Linked DNA regions of Homo sapiens. The protein of the gene in region 1 purifies or fractionates together with the protein of each later gene. This does not show direct contact. Each region holds a gene or a part of one and is shown in the gene's direction. Other genes may lie near its edges.

The links. Proteins that work in one complex are often made in the same cells at the same time.
Region 2: the proteins of PARP12 (region 1) and RNF114 purify together in Homo sapiens (affinity purification with mass spectrometry; 4 studies listed by BioGRID and IntAct, with this or other methods). This does not show direct contact.
Region 3: the proteins of PARP12 (region 1) and MKRN2 purify together in Homo sapiens (co-immunoprecipitation; 3 studies listed by BioGRID and IntAct, with this or other methods). This does not show direct contact.

The regions. Positions count from the first base shown.
Region 1 is NC_000007.14:140,024,951-140,031,999, reverse strand, and holds part of PARP12 (protein mono-ADP-ribosyltransferase PARP12), read left to right. Parts: intron 1-3,311; coding exon 3,312-3,387; exon of another isoform or gene 3,388-3,388; intron 3,389-4,593; coding exon 4,594-4,724; intron 4,725-5,651; coding exon 5,652-5,803; intron 5,804-7,049.
Region 2 is NC_000020.11:49,939,379-49,946,427, forward strand, and holds part of RNF114 (E3 ubiquitin-protein ligase RNF114), read left to right. Parts: intron 1-917; exon of another isoform or gene 918-1,022; intron 1,023-2,182; coding exon 2,183-2,333; intron 2,334-6,003; coding exon 6,004-6,110; intron 6,111-6,757; coding exon 6,758-6,872; intron 6,873-7,049. UniProt on the Homo sapiens protein: E3 ubiquitin-protein ligase that promotes the ubiquitination of various substrates. In turn, participates in the regulation of many biological processes including cell cycle, apoptosis, osteoclastogenesis as well as innate or adaptive immunity.
Region 3 is NC_000003.12:12,581,069-12,584,244, forward strand, and holds the end of MKRN2 (E3 ubiquitin-protein ligase makorin-2), read left to right. Parts: intron 1-739; coding exon 740-884; intron 885-1,047; coding exon 1,048-1,185; 3' UTR 1,186-2,645; downstream 2,646-3,176. UniProt on the Homo sapiens protein: E3 ubiquitin ligase catalyzing the covalent attachment of ubiquitin moieties onto substrate proteins.

The DNA.
Region 1 (7,049 bases):
CGTTTTGTTATATAAATGGCAAATATTTTCTCTTAGTTTGTTGTTTGCCTTTTGACTTTGCCTGTGAAGTATTTTACCATAAATATATATCTCTTATTATTTTAGTTAAATGTATCAGTGTCTTACTGATTCTGGATTTAGAGTTTTGGTTGATTATGACCCTCCTATTTCTGGAAGTCATTTTTTATTCTTTTCCTATACAAAGCCTACCCTAGACAAGGTTTGGAAAAGTCTCTCTGCTTTCTGAGAGTAGATCTCTCTTATTCTAATTTAGTTTTTAGGGGGCCACAAGAAGATGCCAAATGTCCAAACTAAAAGTGATTCAGACTAAGATATGGGTGATTTGGGGTCTCCTGTAAGCGGAGTGTCACACACTGTTCACACAGATGAAGTGTTCAGTTCTTCTCTCTGACCCATGTGCCAGCAGCTGGTTGTCATTAACTCCAGTAAGCAAGTCTGCCTGGGCCTGCATGGCCAATTGGGAATCTGAGGGTAGATCACTTTCAGAAACAACTTTTCTGTTTACACAATTAATGAGGTCATAAAATGTAATGTCCATATTCAGAAGTCATAATACAGGAGTGTCATGTAAAATTTATTTATGTATTTATTTATTTATTTATTTATGAGACAGGGTCTCACTCTGTCACCCAGGATGGAATGCAGTGACCTGATCACGGCTTATTGCACCTTCCACCTCCCGGGCTCAAGCAATCCTCCCACCTCAGCATCCCAAGTAGTTGGGACCACAGGCATGCGCCACCATGCCCAGCTAATTTTTTTATTTGTTGTGGAGACAGGGTCTCACCATGTTGCCCATCCTCTATGAAAATGTTTCATTCATGTGATTGGGTCTTATTTTTTCTTTTCTTACCTTCTTTTGTGTATATGTATATTTTAAAGGCTATGGTAGAAACTACATGTTCTTCACTTAAGTACAAGTAAATCAATATCTTTGCCCTCCTATCTTTTCTTCCATTTGCCTTCCTCTCAACTTTTTTTAAACCTCAAGAGGCACCATTATTTTATACTCTGAAAGTTTCATTAAATTTACTCACATTTTTACCACTTTGTCCTTTCAGATTACCTTAGATCAGGGGTGTCCAATCTTTTGGCTTTCCCAGGCCACATTAGAGGAAAAAGAATTGGTCCACACATAAAATACACTAACACTAACGATAGCTGAACTAAAAGAATAAAAACCACAAGAAAATCTCATAATGTTTTAAGAAAGTTTACAGATTTGTGTTGGGTCACATTCAAAGCTGTCCTGGGTTACATGCAGCCTGCGGGCTGCAGGTTGGACAAGGCTGCCTTCGATGAAGATTTGTTGGAAAACTGTTTTTGGTTTGTCTGAATATGTATGTACGTATGTATGTATGCATGTATGTATGTATGTATTTTGAGATGGAGTCGCACTGTCGCCCAGGCCAGAGTGCAGTGGCATGATCTTGGCTCACTGCAACCTCCGCCTCTTGAGTTCAAGCGATTCTCCTGTCTCAGCCTCCTGAGTAGCTTGGACTACTGGCGTGCGCCACCATGCCCGGCTAATTTTTGTATTTTTGGTGGAGATGGGGTTTCATTATGTTGGTCAGGCTGGTCTTGAACTCCTGATCTCAAGTGATCTGCCCACCTCGGCCTCCCAAAGTGCTGGGATTACAGGCGTGGGCCACTGCGCCTGGCCAACATGTATTTATTTTGCCATCAATCTTGAAGGAAATTTTCACTGGGTATAGAATTTTGGGTTGTAGGGATTTTCTCTTGGATCATTGTGATGATCACTCCACTGTATTCTGGCTTCCACTGTTGCTTTTGAGAAATTGCCTGTTGGTCTAACAGGTGCTTCTTTGACAGTAATCACTCTTTTTTCCTTTGGCTACTTTTAAGAGCTTCTGTTTGTCTTGGAGGTAGGCATCCTCACTAAAGTGTATCTAAGTATGTGCTTTTATTTATCATGGTTGAGATTCTTTGGGCTTCTTAAGCTGCGGATAGGTGCATCTCATCAGTTCTCTTTGAAAATCGCCTCCACTGTCTTGTCTCTCCTCTCCTAGAGCTTCACTTAGGTTCTGATCATATTCAAGTTCTCACTGTTCTCCATGTCTCAACTTCTTTCCTGCATTTTCCATTTCCTTGTTGCTGTGGGCCACATTCTGGACAATTTCATTTCACATATGTTTCAGCTCACTGATTCTTCCTCCAGCTGGTCTAATCTGCTATTAAGCCTGTCCACTACACTTTTATTATTAAAGATTGTACTTAATTCTGTAAGTTCTATTTGGTTCTTTTTTAGATCTTCCAGGTCTTTTTATAGTTTCCTGTTCCTTGCATATGTTTTTAAAGTTTGTCTTTTTTTTTCCTTTAAACATAGGAAGAATAATTGTTTTGTAATCTCTCTGATAATTTCAGCATCTTAAGTCTTTGTGGGTCTGTTTTTGGCTGATTCTTGCTGGTAGGACCTTGCTTAGTTATTTTTGAACTGTGCCATTTTCCCAGGAAAGTTATTTGTGGGAGTTCTTTGAGGCTTAGGATGAAGGTATATGTTTCATGCCAGCAGAAACAGAAGGTAGATCTATTTAGAAAGAACAGTGTATTCTGAAACTTAATAGGAATGATTTGTAATTATAGTTTCACAGTCCTTGTTCCTGAACCCTTGATCCATATGTCTTTTGAACTGCTTTTATTTAATTTTTAGAAAGATAATGTGATGCTTGTATCACGTGACACTCTGTATTTTAGCACATTAATATTTCTGCAGTAAACAATATGCATAGTCAGTTTAAGAAGGATAGATACAGATCACAGTGGCCTCTTACTAACTTCAGTCAAATTTCTACTGCCAAATGACTTTTGATGTCACTTTTATGTTTTTCAAAAAATGTTTTATTTCATATTTTCTCCTGCTTTTCCTGAGCTGTATAAAAAGTTTTAAAATGTCAATTATACCTCATCGAGGCCTTAAAAAAATGTCTTTAGAGCTCTTAGAATTTCAGAATTGTGGATAAAGGTTTATGGCTGTGTGTGTGCTCCTTTAACCATGTACTCCATCCCTTTTATCCCTTTTGTGTGGTAGTTGGGACACAGGCGAGAAATAGATCTCTCAGGACTGTTTGGAGTTTGGCTACATAGGCAAAGATAAAAGTGCTCTCATGTTGTGAATATCGTGCTAACATTCTTCCTTGCCTTCTACCTGCTCTTGAAATATGATGTGCTGAGACTCAAGACTGGTGATATTGGCTAGCAGAGACCACCTATGGTATATTTGCTTTGTGTAAGAATAAAATGTCTACGTGTTTTTGTTTACATTTTTGTAGCAATACCAAGTTTCCAGGCCCGAAGAGCATCCCAGACTATTGGGACTCCTCTGCCCTGCCAGACCCAGGCTTTCAGGTAGGGGACGCATGCGCCTGGGGCTGGACAGGAAGGTGTTCTGTAGAAGTGGGTGTGTGTGAACAGACTGTGCCATTCCTCAACACTGAAGAAGCTGTAAGGCTGGGGCTAATTGGGGCAGGAGGGCAGTGACAGATGTGGGCTTTATTTTTGTTTTTGTTTTTTGCAGAGGGTTTTGTTTTTTCACCACCCAGGAGTTGGCTGTGGCTCTGAGGGGAGGGGTTGTCTTGTGGAGGGAGGAGGATGAGCGTGAAATTTGCTAGAAAGGGCAGAAATGAGTTTATGGGCTGGGCTTAACCAATAAATACCAATTTTATTAAGCGAGAAAAGGAGAAGCAGCCTGGGGAGGACCTGAGTCCGATGGACATTTGGAATGGGGTTACTGTCAGGAGGGAAGGCATTCACGACTAGCAGACAGGAGAATGGACAGTCAATTTGGCAGCTTGTTGAGGGGCTCTGACCAGTGGGAGCTGTGCTGAGTGCAGGAGAGTACGCAGACTAACATCTGAGGCTGCCCGTCTGCACCTGGGCTGATGTCTGCCAGCTGGCCGGCTGCCGAGCACTGTCTAACTCAGCTTTAAAACGTGACGGTCCCTGTCCTGGGAGGACTTATTGAGCTTGTATAAGGCACATGCAGATGCCAACAGTGCAGGCAAGAAGTGCTAAGGACCTAAAGGGGTTCAACATGTTTGTCTAGACGACTCTGTGGTCCTTGGACCATGTAGTCCAACCTGTGTCTTTGACCTGTGTGGGACAAGAAAAAAAAAAGGCAGGGACATCCAGGGGATACCCTCGATGGTGGCTTAAGCATCACGTGTCTGTCCTTTAGATTGGTTTCACAGTGATGAGGAGCAAAGTGACTACAATTTGCAAACATAGTAAATCCTCAACATCATCAGTAGGTTCTTGGAAACTGACTTAAAGTGGCACAACATACTGTCTAACGAAACCAATTTCCCATATGCTAACTGACATAAACAAGAGGTTTGTTGTTTTACTTAAAATTGCAGTTTCCAAGAACCTATCAATGACATTTCATGAGGACCGATTGTCTCCTGTGCCTGGAGAAACCACAGGAGAATGTGGTCACTGCTCTCTGGGCTTTTGTGCTTCTGCGGTTCTAGTGTTTACAAGAAGCTTTGGGAAGGGACTGATTTATATTCTGCACGTTGATGGTAATGCATTAAAAACATTTGCCCCTTGCAGAAGATCACCCTTAGTTCTTCCTCGGAAGAGTATCAGAAGGTCTGGAACCTCTTTAACCGCACGCTGCCTTTCTACTTTGTTCAGAAGATTGAGCGAGTACAGAACCTGGCCCTCTGGGAAGTCTACCAGTGGTGCGTTGGGGCTCGCTCTTGGTGGGCTGGTGACTCTGTCCCTTCACACCACTGGCTGGTTGCCACATGTGGCCCGGGTTTCCAGGAAAAGCAGAGCGGCAGTTAGGGCTGCCATGTGCTGGGAGCTGTGTGTCTGCTCTCCTTCGTCCGCTCCCCCAGGGCAGTGTGGTAGCACATCCCATTGTAGAGATGAGGGCACCGAGGCTTCCTGGAGCATACCACCTGGTCCCGTTCATGAGTGGTGGCAAAGCTAGCACTCTCACTTGTCCATTCTGCCTTCCTGGAGACCAGTGGGATGGGTCAGTACAGCCCACCACACCATTAGCCCCAGGAACATAAGGCTGTGGCTAGACAGCAGGGGTCTCAGGTTCATACATGAGGACTGGCTTGTCCTTGAGCACCCACTCACCTGTCTATGTGGGGAGGAATCCTACAATAGGTCACCATGGCAGGCTGGGTCTTGCTGACCTGTCCCCAGATGGGGTTGGGGTAGTGTAATGTGTACTCTGTGCACAGTGATGAAGTCTGGGAATGGGAGAGGGGAGAAGGATGGGCACCCACTGACCAGCAGCCTGAAAATTCCTACAGCATCCCAGGGCTCAGCTCCATGCAGGAGCAAGGTGGGGGTGGGGTTGGGGGAAATGGTACCCATTTTCCAAGGGCTGCTCTGCTTTTGGAGTCCAGGGAACCGCTGCTGTCTGGAGCTGTGGAGGGAGGGTTTTCACCCAGCTCCCACGATCCCCCTTCTTTTCCACACCCTGGCTTGTGGCTGGAGCTTACAGGCCTAGTCAGGGTAGCCTGTGACCTGCGTCTCTTGGTCCCAGGACACTTTTGGAATTTTGGAAAAATGTGTTGTTTTGCATCAGGCCGGCTGTATTTGGTGGCCGGCACACTCTGCCCCCAGCACACATTCTTCTGTGATTCTAGGCAAAAAGGACAGATGCAGAAGCAGAACGGAGGGAAGGCCGTGGACGAGCGGCAGCTGTTCCACGGCACCAGCGCCATTTTTGTGGACGCCATCTGCCAGCAGAACTTTGACTGGCGGGTCTGTGGTGTTCATGGCACTTCCTACGGCAAGGGTAAGGCATGACTGGCCTCCACCAGCAAAACCCATGTTGCTTTGCCCCTGCATAGGAACAGACTGCTAGAGGGCATGAGGGGACCAGCCTGAGCTGATGAGCAGGTTCAGACTCCATGTGTGGTGGTACCTGGGCACAGCTACCAGTCACATCCTTGCTCTTGCTCCTCTGGGCATGGTCAGGAGCTTGGCCCCAGGTGTGGGCAGGGTGGCCTGCCTAGGCTGGGGTGTTGCTTCCCTGTGGAGCAGAGGCCCTGGGAGATGGTGACAGAGACGGGAGAGGAGAGGGGATACCTTCCCAGCCCTGATGAAGTCCCTGACTGTGCCTTTACTATTGATTTCCTTAGAATAGAAACCAGAAACCCTCAGAGATACTCATGTAAACATGTATTCTAGCTATCACGTGAGTTATCTGAGTGTTTTCTTGTCTGTTATTTTTAAACTTGCCAAAGAAAATTTTAAAATACTATTTCTTTGGAAATCGAAATTCAAGAAAATTGGAATAATAATAATTAAAAAAAACCTCTTTGGGTAAATTTTACCTGCGTTCATTGGTTTTAACATGCTGCCACTTCTCTCTTTCTCTCTCCCTCTCTCTTTCTGCACCATTTTCAGGTAGGTGGCATATATTGTCTCCTTTCACCCTTTAACACATCCCAAGAACAGGACATTATCTTCTGTAACCACAATATGCTTACCAAGTTGAGAACATTTTCTGCCCAGCAGTCCATGTTCCGGGTCCATCAGTTCTTTGTTAGTCAGTTTCCGTCTGAGGCAGCGATGGCAAGGGGTCAAGATGGACAGCAGCCAGTGGTAGACTTGTGGATTTAAATGTACAGGTGACAGCTTCTAACTCAGATTTCCATTTGACAAGGCTCATAATTCTATACATTGGGCTGCCAGAGTCTACAGACTGCTTCCGTATATGGGATCTCATTCATTTTCCATGCCAACCCTGTAAGGTTGGGCTGAACAGCCCCATTTTATGCCTGAGGAATCTGAGGTTTGGGGGATTAAGTAGTGACGTGTCCACAGGCCTTTAGGTTTCGTGGGGCAGATCCGGAACTTGAAAGGAATTTGCTATCTCAGTTTGGTAACTCCTCAGATGCTGCCACTCAGAAGGGTGTTGGTATCACTGATGCATGTGACTTCATGAGGGAGAGTGGAGACATGGCACAGAGGGAGGGAGGGAGATGCGGGGTGGAAGAGTAGAGGCCCTGGCGTTGCACATCACCAGGACGCTATTC
Region 2 (7,049 bases), on another chromosome or scaffold:
AGGAGATTCTTAGAGGCAGTAGAAAATGGTCAAGTGTTCAGAAGATGGCCTTTCATTATATATCTTTAGTTCTTTCTGGCAGATTTGGTTATACTGTCTTAATCTATCAGGTTGGGTAAGTAGCCCAGGGTGTCTTCTCCATTCTTTCTGTATGCCTTATCTCAGCATTACCATCTTCCTAGGCTTCAGGATAGGAACTCGGTCATCTTTGACTTCTTTTCTTCAAAGTCAGTAAGTTATCAAGTCCTCCTGATTCTACCTTTCTGTGAATGGTTTCCTGAATTCATCCCCTGCTGCTTCAGTCAGACCCTCACAATCCTCTGCCTTTAGCCATCTGTTTGGTTTCTACTTTGTCTCTTCTCACCTTCTCACCTAAAAAAAAAAAAAACTATAGGGCTGGGCTCAGTGGCTCACACCTGTAATCCCAGCACTTTGGGAGGCCAAGACGGGTGGATCACCAGAGGTCAGGAGTTCGAGACCAGCCTGGCTAACGTGGTGAAACCCCGTCTCTACTAAAAATATAAAATTAGCTGGGTGTGGTCATGCGCGCCTGTAACCCCAGCCACTTGGGAGTCTGAAGCAGGAGAATCGCTTGGACCGGGGAGGCAGATTTTGCAGTGAGCCGAGATTGCACCATTGCACTTCAGCCTGGGCAACAGAGCACGACTCTGTCTCAAAAAAAAAAAAAAAAAAAAAAGTAACAAAACTTTGTTTTCCATGATAGCACAGAGATATTTTTCTGAAACCTGGATTTGGCCTTGTTTTGTTAATACCTTCCTTTTAAACTCCTGGCTCCCTACTGTTTATGAGGAAAAGTCTGTTAGATTTTTATTTCCTCAGATACATATCAATTTTAAGCCTAAATTAGGCCTAGAATAGTCTTCCCTTCCTCTGCTAGCTGACCTCTTTTTTTAAAATGCCAGAGGGGTAATGGGCCAACATCTGTAACAAGGTTCGAGGGTGGCACATCTCACACATGCACATGAACACCCAGTCCTCAGGTTCATGAACTACAAAAGGATCCATCTGAACCCTTTTTTTTTTTTTTTTGAGACGGAGTCTCGCTCTGTCTCCCAGGCTGGATGGAGTGCAGTGGCGCGATCTTGGCTCACTGCAAGCTCTGCGTCCTGGGTTCATGCCATTCTCCTGCCTAAGCCTCCCGAGTAGCTGGGACTACAGGCACCCGCCACCACTCCCAGCTAATTTTTGTATTTTTAGTAGAGACGGGGTTTCACTGTGTTAGCCAGGATGGTCTCGATCTCCTGACCTTGTGATCTGCCCGCCTCGGCCTCCCAAAGTGCTGGGATTACAGGCATGAGCCACCGCGCCTGGCTGAGCTGAACCCTTTTAAGGCTGATCAGAGATGCCGTCTCTGCAGTCTTCCCCTCCACCCCCCCCTTGAGACAGAGTCGCACTCTGTTGCCCAGGCTGGAGTGTGCAGCCACCTCTGCCTCCCAGGTTCAAGCAATTCTCCTGCCTCAGCCTCCCGAGTAGCTGGGATTACAGGCATCTGCCACCATGCCTGGCTAATTTTGGTATTTTTAGTAGAGACGGGTTTCACCATGTTGGTAAGGCTGGTCTCAAACTCCTGACCTCGTGATCTGCCTGCCTTGGCCTCCCAAAGTGCTGGGATTACGGGCGTGAGCCACCGCTCCCAGCCTTCACTGCAGTCTTACCAGCCCTTTCCTTCTCAGGTCACTAGTTGATTTTCCCTTTATGTTCCTGTAGCGCTTTGCCTTCACCTGTAATGATAGCAGCTCCCGTTTGTGGTGCGTTTTGTAAGGGCTGGACACTCTGCCAGGGGTCTGCTATACAAACTGTATCCTCCCAGCAGTCCTAGAGGTAGGTACTACTCTCTCCATTTCACAAAGGAAAAAATGGAGATTCAAGAAACCCCACTGAGATCCTTCAGTGGCAGGGCCTAAGGCTTGAAGCCTCAACCTTAACACCTTCACTGTGTCTATCACAGGAGTTTGCATTTGTTTCTGTAGTTGTGTGTTCTTTGTAGTCCACTCCTATCCCTCATTTTTTCTGGCTTGGAAGGACTTAGTATTTGAACTGGGAGGAGAGAGCAAGTTGTTTTTTACTCCATTATCCATTGATGTCTTTTTAAAAGTTGATCCATATTTGTCGTCTTGTCTCCATGATGCGTGACAGAGGTTCTCTGTATGTCTTGTTCTAGCTTTTGCTCTGCATGCCTGCAGGAATGTCTGAAGCCGAAGAAGCCTGTCTGTGGGGTGTGTCGCAGCGCTCTGGCACCTGGCGTCCGAGCCGTGGAGCTCGAGCGGCAGATCGAGAGCACAGAGACTTCTTGCCATGGCTGCCGTAAGAATGTATGTGGAAGTGATGTGGAAGAGTCCATGTCTTTCCATGATAAGTTGGGGTAAAACGTACAGCTGCCATGTTGTTGCTGAAGTTAGAGCATGACTAGGTCACTAACAGCACGCGTGCATGCCAATTACCTGTGGTGATGGCTGGGCTGGTTTGTTTTCATAACCTTACTGGTTTTTGTTTCTTTTTTTAAGAGTTGGTTAAGTATATATTTTAGGTTTGAAAGCCATAGAAATCAGTTATCCCAGTTTTTTCCTATAAAAGATCAATTATGGCCAGGCGCGGTGGCTCATTCCTGTAACCCCAGCTCTTTGGGAGTCCGAGGCAAGAGCTTGAGGCTAGGAGTTAAGAGACCAGCCTGGACAACATAGTGAGACCTCATCTTTACAAAAAAATAAAATTAGCCGGGTGTGGTGGTATGTACCTGTAGGCCCAGCTACTCAGGAGGCAGAGGCCAGAGGATCACTTGAGCCCAGGAGTTTGGGATTACAGTGATCTATGATCATGCCACTGCACTCCAGCCTGGCTGACAGCAAGACCCTGTCTCTTAAAAAAAAGTCAATATGAAATCATTGGATTGTAATAACAATAGCTAACATTTGAAATGCATCCATGCTCTTGTATAATCAGAGTCAAGTATATTTATTTTCATACCTGTTATAACTGCTACTGGAAAGGAGAAATACTGTTGTCTTATTTTCCAAGAGATATACACAGCCTTGTTGATTTTAGAATCATTAAAATTTTTAAAATTGCAGACCATACAAAAGTACACAATAATGTAGGCTTGTTCCTCATTCCAGAGATTACTTCAAAATTCGTTCAACTTAAGGCCTGGCAAGGTGGTTCATGCCTGTAATCCCAACACTTTGGGAGGCCAAGGTGGGTGGATTGCTTGAGTCCAGGAGTTCTAGACCAGCCTGGACAACATGGTGAAACCTCGGCTCTACTGAAAATACAAAAAACTAGCAGGGCATGGTGGTGTGTGCCCGTAGTCTCAACTGTTCGGGAGGCTGAGGTGAGAGGATGGCTTGAGCCCAGGAGGCAGAGGTTGCAGTGAGCTGAGTTCGTGCCACTGCACTCCATCCTGGGTGATAGAGCCGGACCCTGTCTCAAGGAAAAAAAAAGTGATTTAATTTCGAAAGCTGCATAACATTTTCTGCCCTTTGACAAACACTGTAGAATTTTTACCAACCAAGTTGTAGGATTTTTGCAAAATGAGATTATACTATAATATATATATTTCTTCAACTTTTTTCACTTTTTTAAATGTACACTCATTCCCAACTTTTTTTTTCCACTTTTCAGGTTTTTTTTCTCTTACATATTGGACAGCCTTGCATGTCAGTTTCATTATTTTTAACACTTCGGTATGGATGCCCATAGTAAGAATATACCTTACCATCTCCTTTTCAGCGTGATTTAGTATTAGGGATGCATAGTAGGGCCATTTCAATGCTGAATAGGGCTATTTTCTGTGTCTTAATTGGGGGCTTCACTCTTGAGGCTGGGCATGGTGGCTCATGCCTATATCCTATCATTTGGAGAGGCCAAGGCAAGAGGATCACTGACCCCAGGAGTTCGAAATCAGCCTGGGCAACATAGTGGGACTCTGTATATACCAAAACAAACCAACAAACAAAACCAGCTGTGTGTAGTGGTGTATGCATGTAGTCCCAGCTCCTTGGGAGGCTGAGGTGGGAAGATTGCTTGAGCCCAGAAGTTTGAGAGCAGCCTGGGGAATATAGTGGACCCAGTTTCTACAAAAAAAGGAAAAAAAAATTGAGGATTCCTCAGTTTGTAGCTTAAAGTCAAGTTCTTGAGCTGGAGGTGAGACAATCATCATGGTAAGCTGGAGCTCAAATATTGGAGCATTTTTTTCCCCCTTTGAAGTTTACTTTTAGAAACTCAAAATATTGAAATACAATTCCCTACTGTCTTCTTTTTTTTTTTTTTTTTTTTTTTTTGAGACGGAGTCTCACTCTGTTGCCCAGGCTGGAGTACAGTGGCGTGATCTCAGCTCACTGCAGGCTCCGCCTGTTGGGTTCACGCCATTCTCCTGCCTCAGCCTCCTGAGTAGCTGGGACTACAGGTGCCCATCACCACGCCCAGCTATATATATATACACACACACACACACACACACACATACATACACACAGAGATATATATATATATATATATATATATTTGTATTTTTAGTAGAGACAGGGTTTCACTGTGTTAGCCAGGATGGTCTCGATCTCCTGACCTCGTGACCCGCCCGCCTCAGCCTCCCAAAATGCTGGGATTATAGGCATGAGCCATTGCACCCGGTCTCTTCATCTTTATTTATGCATGCATAATGTGGTTTTTGGTTTTGTTTTGTTTTTTTTCTGAGACAGGGTCTGGCTTTGTTGCCCGGGCTGGAGTGCAATTGCGTGGTCTCAGCTCACTGAAACCTCTGCCTCCCAGGCTCAAACCATCCTCCCACCTCAGCCTCTCAAGTAGCTGGGACTACAGGCATGTGTCACCACGCCTGCCTAATTTTTTTGTATTTTCAGTAGAGACGAGTTTTGCATGTTGCCCATGCTGATCTCGAACTCGGGAGCGTGAAGTGATGGCCCACCTCAGCCTCCCTCAGGATTACAGGTGTGAGCCACCGTACTCCGCCCATGATGGGCTTTTTGTTTGTTTTACTGTATGCTTTTGCTTTTCTCCATTTTCAAGATTAGTGATTGTACTGTTGGCATGCCTCAGAAAATGTTTTTCTTTCCTTTATCTTCCCTCTTTTCTTCAATTCTTAAAACTTTCTTTCTTTTTAGAAAACCTGTAATGAAGCACTATTCTCTGGGTTTTCTTCTCTTTCTGTTTTACTGTTGCACAGCCTAGATTTTATATGAAAGGCTGGGCCGGGCGTGGTAGCTCACGCCTGTAAACCCAGCACTTTGGCAGGCTGAGGCAGGCAGATCACTTGAGGTCAGGAGTTCGAGACCAGCCTGGCTAACGTGGTGAAACTCCATCTCTACTAAAAATATGAAAATTAGCTGGGCCTGATGGCACACACCTGTAATCCCAGCTACTCAGGAGGCTGAGGTGGGAGAATCACTTGAACCCGGGAGGCGGAGGTTGCAGTGAGCCGAGATGGTGCCACTGCACTTCAGTCTGGGCGACAGAGTGAGTGAGACTCTGTCTCAAAAAAAAAAAAAAAGAGAATTTAGATTTTAAAGATTATTTCTCAGAGGCTGGTGATAGATACTTTAACCAGGGTTAGTGGCTTTTATATGTTTTACCTAAAGGATCACTTTTCTCTGCTGCACATAACAGAATGTGGTTTTTGGCTTGCTGTAAGGAGACTAGTTTAAATGCTAGTATAGAAAACTTTTAAAAACATCCTAGATTTGGAGCTTGTCTGTGAGCAGACAGCCTATCATGAATAGGAGCAAACCTCTAGGAGAGTTATTTTAGAGTGGAAGTGGATATCCTGATTTAGTCGAATAAAATAGCAGCCTTGGTATTAATGGGAAATCTGCAATAATCAGGGTTTCAGCCCCATCAGCGTAGTCAGGAGTTTGGTGAGATTATTTGCCAGGGTGGTGTAGGTCTAGTTTTCTTTGTGCCCTTGTTTGGGACTATATTTTGCCTGTTGCAAGGTCCTCACTAACTTATGGGCTCTGATTCTTCCTATTTGAGTTCTTCCTGTCCAAGATCCGGTCCCACGTGGCTACTTGTTCCAAATACCAGAATTACATCATGGAAGGTGTGAAGGCCACCATTAAGGATGCATCTCTTCAGCCAAGGTAAATGACTCAGTCTCCCCTTAGGTGGAGGTCATCTCTTGCTATTAATACAAAGAGGTTGCATGCCCAGGGGTTTAGTTGTATGAATTGTTATGCTGGCTAAAGCTGATACAAGTATTTTGGGAGGAGTATGCAAGGGAGGACTCTGGTGTTCACTTCAGATGTTAGCTGAGCTATATTCTTTTTTTCTTTTTTGAGACAGAGTCTCGCTCTGTTGCCCAGGCTGGTGTGCAGTGGTGCAATCTCAGCTCACTGCAACCTCTGCCTCCCGGGTTCAAGCGATTCTCCTGCCTCAACCTCCCAAGTAGCTGGGATTACAGGCACCTGCCACCATGCCTGGCTAAATTTTGTATTTTTTAGTAGAGACAGGGTTTGTCATGTTGGTCAGGCTGGTCTTGAACTCCTGATCTCAGGTGATCCGCCTGCTTTGGCCTCCCAAAGTGCTGCGATTACAGGCGTAAACCACCACGCCCGGCCAGCTGAGCTGTTATTTTCACAACACTTGACCTGAGTCTGAAGTGATCATCAGCATCCTTATCATTACACATTTGGTGAGCTTTGCTCCTTTTTGGAGTGTACTGTGGTTGAAGTTTAATGGAAAGGTACTCACAGAAAAGTTTTCTTTTTTCCTGTGTTTCACCTTCCAGGAATGTTCCAAACCGTTACACCTTTCCTTGTCCTTACTGTCCTGAGAAGAACTTTGATCAGGAAGGACTTGTGGAACACTGCAAATTATTCCATAGCACGGATACCAAATCTGTGGTGAGTAACCTTTTTTTTTTTTTTTAAACTTCATTAAGGGAAAGGATCAAGCTTGGAGAAAAATGACGGGATTAGTAGAATGAACTCCTGTGTGCCCTTCACCTAGATTGACAGATTGTTAACATTTTACCATATTTGCTTAACCATGCTCTATAGTACACATTTTTTGCTGACCAC
Region 3 (3,176 bases), on another chromosome or scaffold:
AATGGGAATTCATTTGATTGAGTTTCCTTGGGCAGGGTTCTTAACATAGAGGTCTGTGGGGAGAATGGTAGAATTAAGAGAGAGGGAAAACATTTTGAACTGTTTGGTCACTGTATGCTGTAGACCCATGTTTTATGCATTGAAAAACACTGTTCAGAGAAGGGGTCCAAAGCACATAAGGCGTGAAGAAGCCCTCCCTGGTGCCGAGGTTGGAGACAGGAAAACTGGAAGGAGACCTATGGCTTTAGGCAGTTGCTAAAACCCTCTGCTTTCCCTGTAGCCACCTTGACAGCACTGCGGCCAGGAGGAAGGGGAGAGTTGGCTTGGTGGGGTACCTAGGGAACTTTGAGCAGAGACAAGTGGCCCAGCTTCAGAGCTTAGTGCCCAGAGGAGTGACCAGGCCTGGCTTAGCTCTGTGGTGACCCAGGAGGTGCTCTGGAGCTGCCGGAGGGCCTGTGGAGCACTGCAGTCTCCACACAGCAAGTCCCCAGGCAGGTTAATATCCTTTGCAAGGCTGCAGGTAAGTGGGGATACTTCCTATCCTGCTTGGAAATCAGAATCCCAGCTGTGTGTGACCTGAGACAAATCACTCAACCTCTCCCAGCCTCAGCTGCCCCACCTAGAATGTGAGGCTGACCTACCTCTGGCGTAAGGGTGGTAAGGATGGAGGCAGGCAGTGGCCCAGTTTGGACCCCTCATTTTCCCACCAGCCTCTTGACTTTTTCTTTCTGCTTTTCAGGAAAAAAGCCTGTAAATACTTTGAGCAAGGCAAGGGGACCTGCCCATTTGGAAGCAAATGTCTTTATCGCCATGCTTACCCCGATGGGCGGCTAGCAGAGCCTGAGAAACCTCGGAAACAGCTCAGTTCTCAAGGCACTGTGAGGGTAAGGACTTTAGCCATCTCTAGTTGGGGACACTTAGCAGCTGTGGGCATTTCCAGGTACCGTTCCTGGCAGAGAAATGGGGTAGGCAAAAGAACGATCAAGGAACGCAGCCTTCCTGTTGCTCTTAGCAGTAACCAGGCATGTCCACTGGCTGTTTTTGCAGTTCTTTAATTCAGTGCGGCTCTGGGATTTCATCGAGAACCGAGAAAGCCGGCATGTCCCCAACAATGAAGATGTCGACATGACAGAGCTCGGGGACCTCTTCATGCACCTTTCTGGAGTGGAATCATCAGAACCCTAAAGAGTAGATGGTTGCCCTGCATCTTGGGCTCCATCGGCCGAAACTTTCCCAAGCCAGGGTGTGCGGAGCTTCCCTGTACTGCAGCCAAGGTGACGTGTGACTTGGATTTGAGTGGAGTTGGGCTTAGCCTTAGTCTCATTCAATCTCCATTATTACAGCCATGGGGAAGAGTGAAAGATATAAAGTAACCTAATTAAATGTATGGAATTGCTATTTTTATAGCTGATATAGTTACACCTCAAGCCCCTCAGGGGTAACAACTAACAAACACCCAAACTGTTTGGATTGATTGCTTTAAAAAACAAACCTGGCTCTTACCTTTGATCTTTTCTTCCCCAGAAATAGTAAACTTGCAGCTGCCCCTAATGCAGCATATTTTTCTTACCAAAGGAGTCTTCAGCCCTATAAAAGGATTCCTCTATAGTGTATTTCTCTAGTGTATTTAGTGTGTCGTCAAAATTTTGATTTATACAGAGCTTTCAAGAACACACAATGCAAAGTGAGCGCAGCATAGCTGTTAACAAACATACAACTTTTTTCTAGGGCTTTAAGGGTGGTCATTTTTTTCAAGTTCTCTCAAGTGTCCCAAATCAGGGTAGCAATCTTGTTGCCACATGTGCAGCAAACAAAGTGGAAGTATAGATCTTCTTCTCCCTTAGGGAGGCTCTTGAAGGAGCAGGAGGTACAGTACTGGGTAGCAGTCTGGCCCTCCTGTCGTCTGGTTGGTGTTGGGGCCTCCAGCCAGGGCCCTCTAGGGGAACCAAGCCTCTGCTCTCACCTGTGGGTTCTTGCCCATCAGGGTAATTGTATTGAGAACTCAAATATACGTGCACTTACATGTGTGGTTCGTACTCAAGTGATCTATTATCTAGCTGCAAAGCCTGGCTTTGATTTGAAATTTTGTAAAAATTTCATGGCACCCAAGGTTTCTGATTCTGACCCAGCAGTGGTCCTGAAGAGAGCTGATGGCAAGTCTTGTAGTCATTTTGATTTTAATTGAAGGGTGAGCATAACCTTGTGAACCAGCACTAGCTTGTTCCAAGCTGGAATTTATCTAATCTATTTTTGTGTTTAAAAAAGCTGTACCTACCAAATAAATAAATAGTTTATAAAATGTATTACTTAAGGTATTAGCTGAGTTTAGAGTACTTTCTGCTTAATTAATTTTTATACTTAACTCTTCAGTAGAGGTTTACAAAGAGTACAAAGGTTAAATTACAAATTCATTCCCAGCCTAGGCTCTGGGCACATTTCCTGTTCTTGAATTCTGCTCCTGAAGAGGGTGAACAAATGGGGCATTCAAGTTGTGAGCTCAGAATTACTTTAAAAGGAGGTAACAGCCAGCCATTACACCTAAATTTAATTTATTTTATTAAAATAACATAATTGAGGGACCATCAGATAACTGTATTTTGTCAGGTGCAATAAAAACAAAATTAAAACCCAAATCATCAAGAAAACCTGTATTCCTGGCTTCCTTGTATACACATGATGTGACTAGAGAAACAAGGCTGTTTGTTTGTTTGTTTGTTAGAGAAACAAGGCTGGCCCTGCGGCCCCGCCCCATAGGGGCAGCTCCTGGAAGACAAAATTCAGCATGATGGAAGACTGCTCCCTGAGAGGGCTGAGATGCGGATTGGCCGAGTGCCTTGCCTGGAAAACCATCCCAATGCACTGGACACCTTAGAAGCTGTGAAAGGAGGACGTGTCCCCTAAGAAAAGTTCCATAGTACCAAAGCAGGCTCCTTCGGGCGGCCAGAGTCTCGGCAGTCCTGGGCTGTTTGGTGCCTTATGTGCAAAATGTCTGGCGCTGCACCACTCTCTGAAGAAAGTCCCGCCTGTGACATGCATTCCTCCAGAAGCTGATTTCCAAAATCCCATGTGTCTCCACATCAGGGCTGGACTGCCTGCTACCTTACTTCCTCTAAATACTCATGTAGCCAACAGCTGGGGCTGGGCCCCTGCTTTTTGTACTACCATCAACATCCACT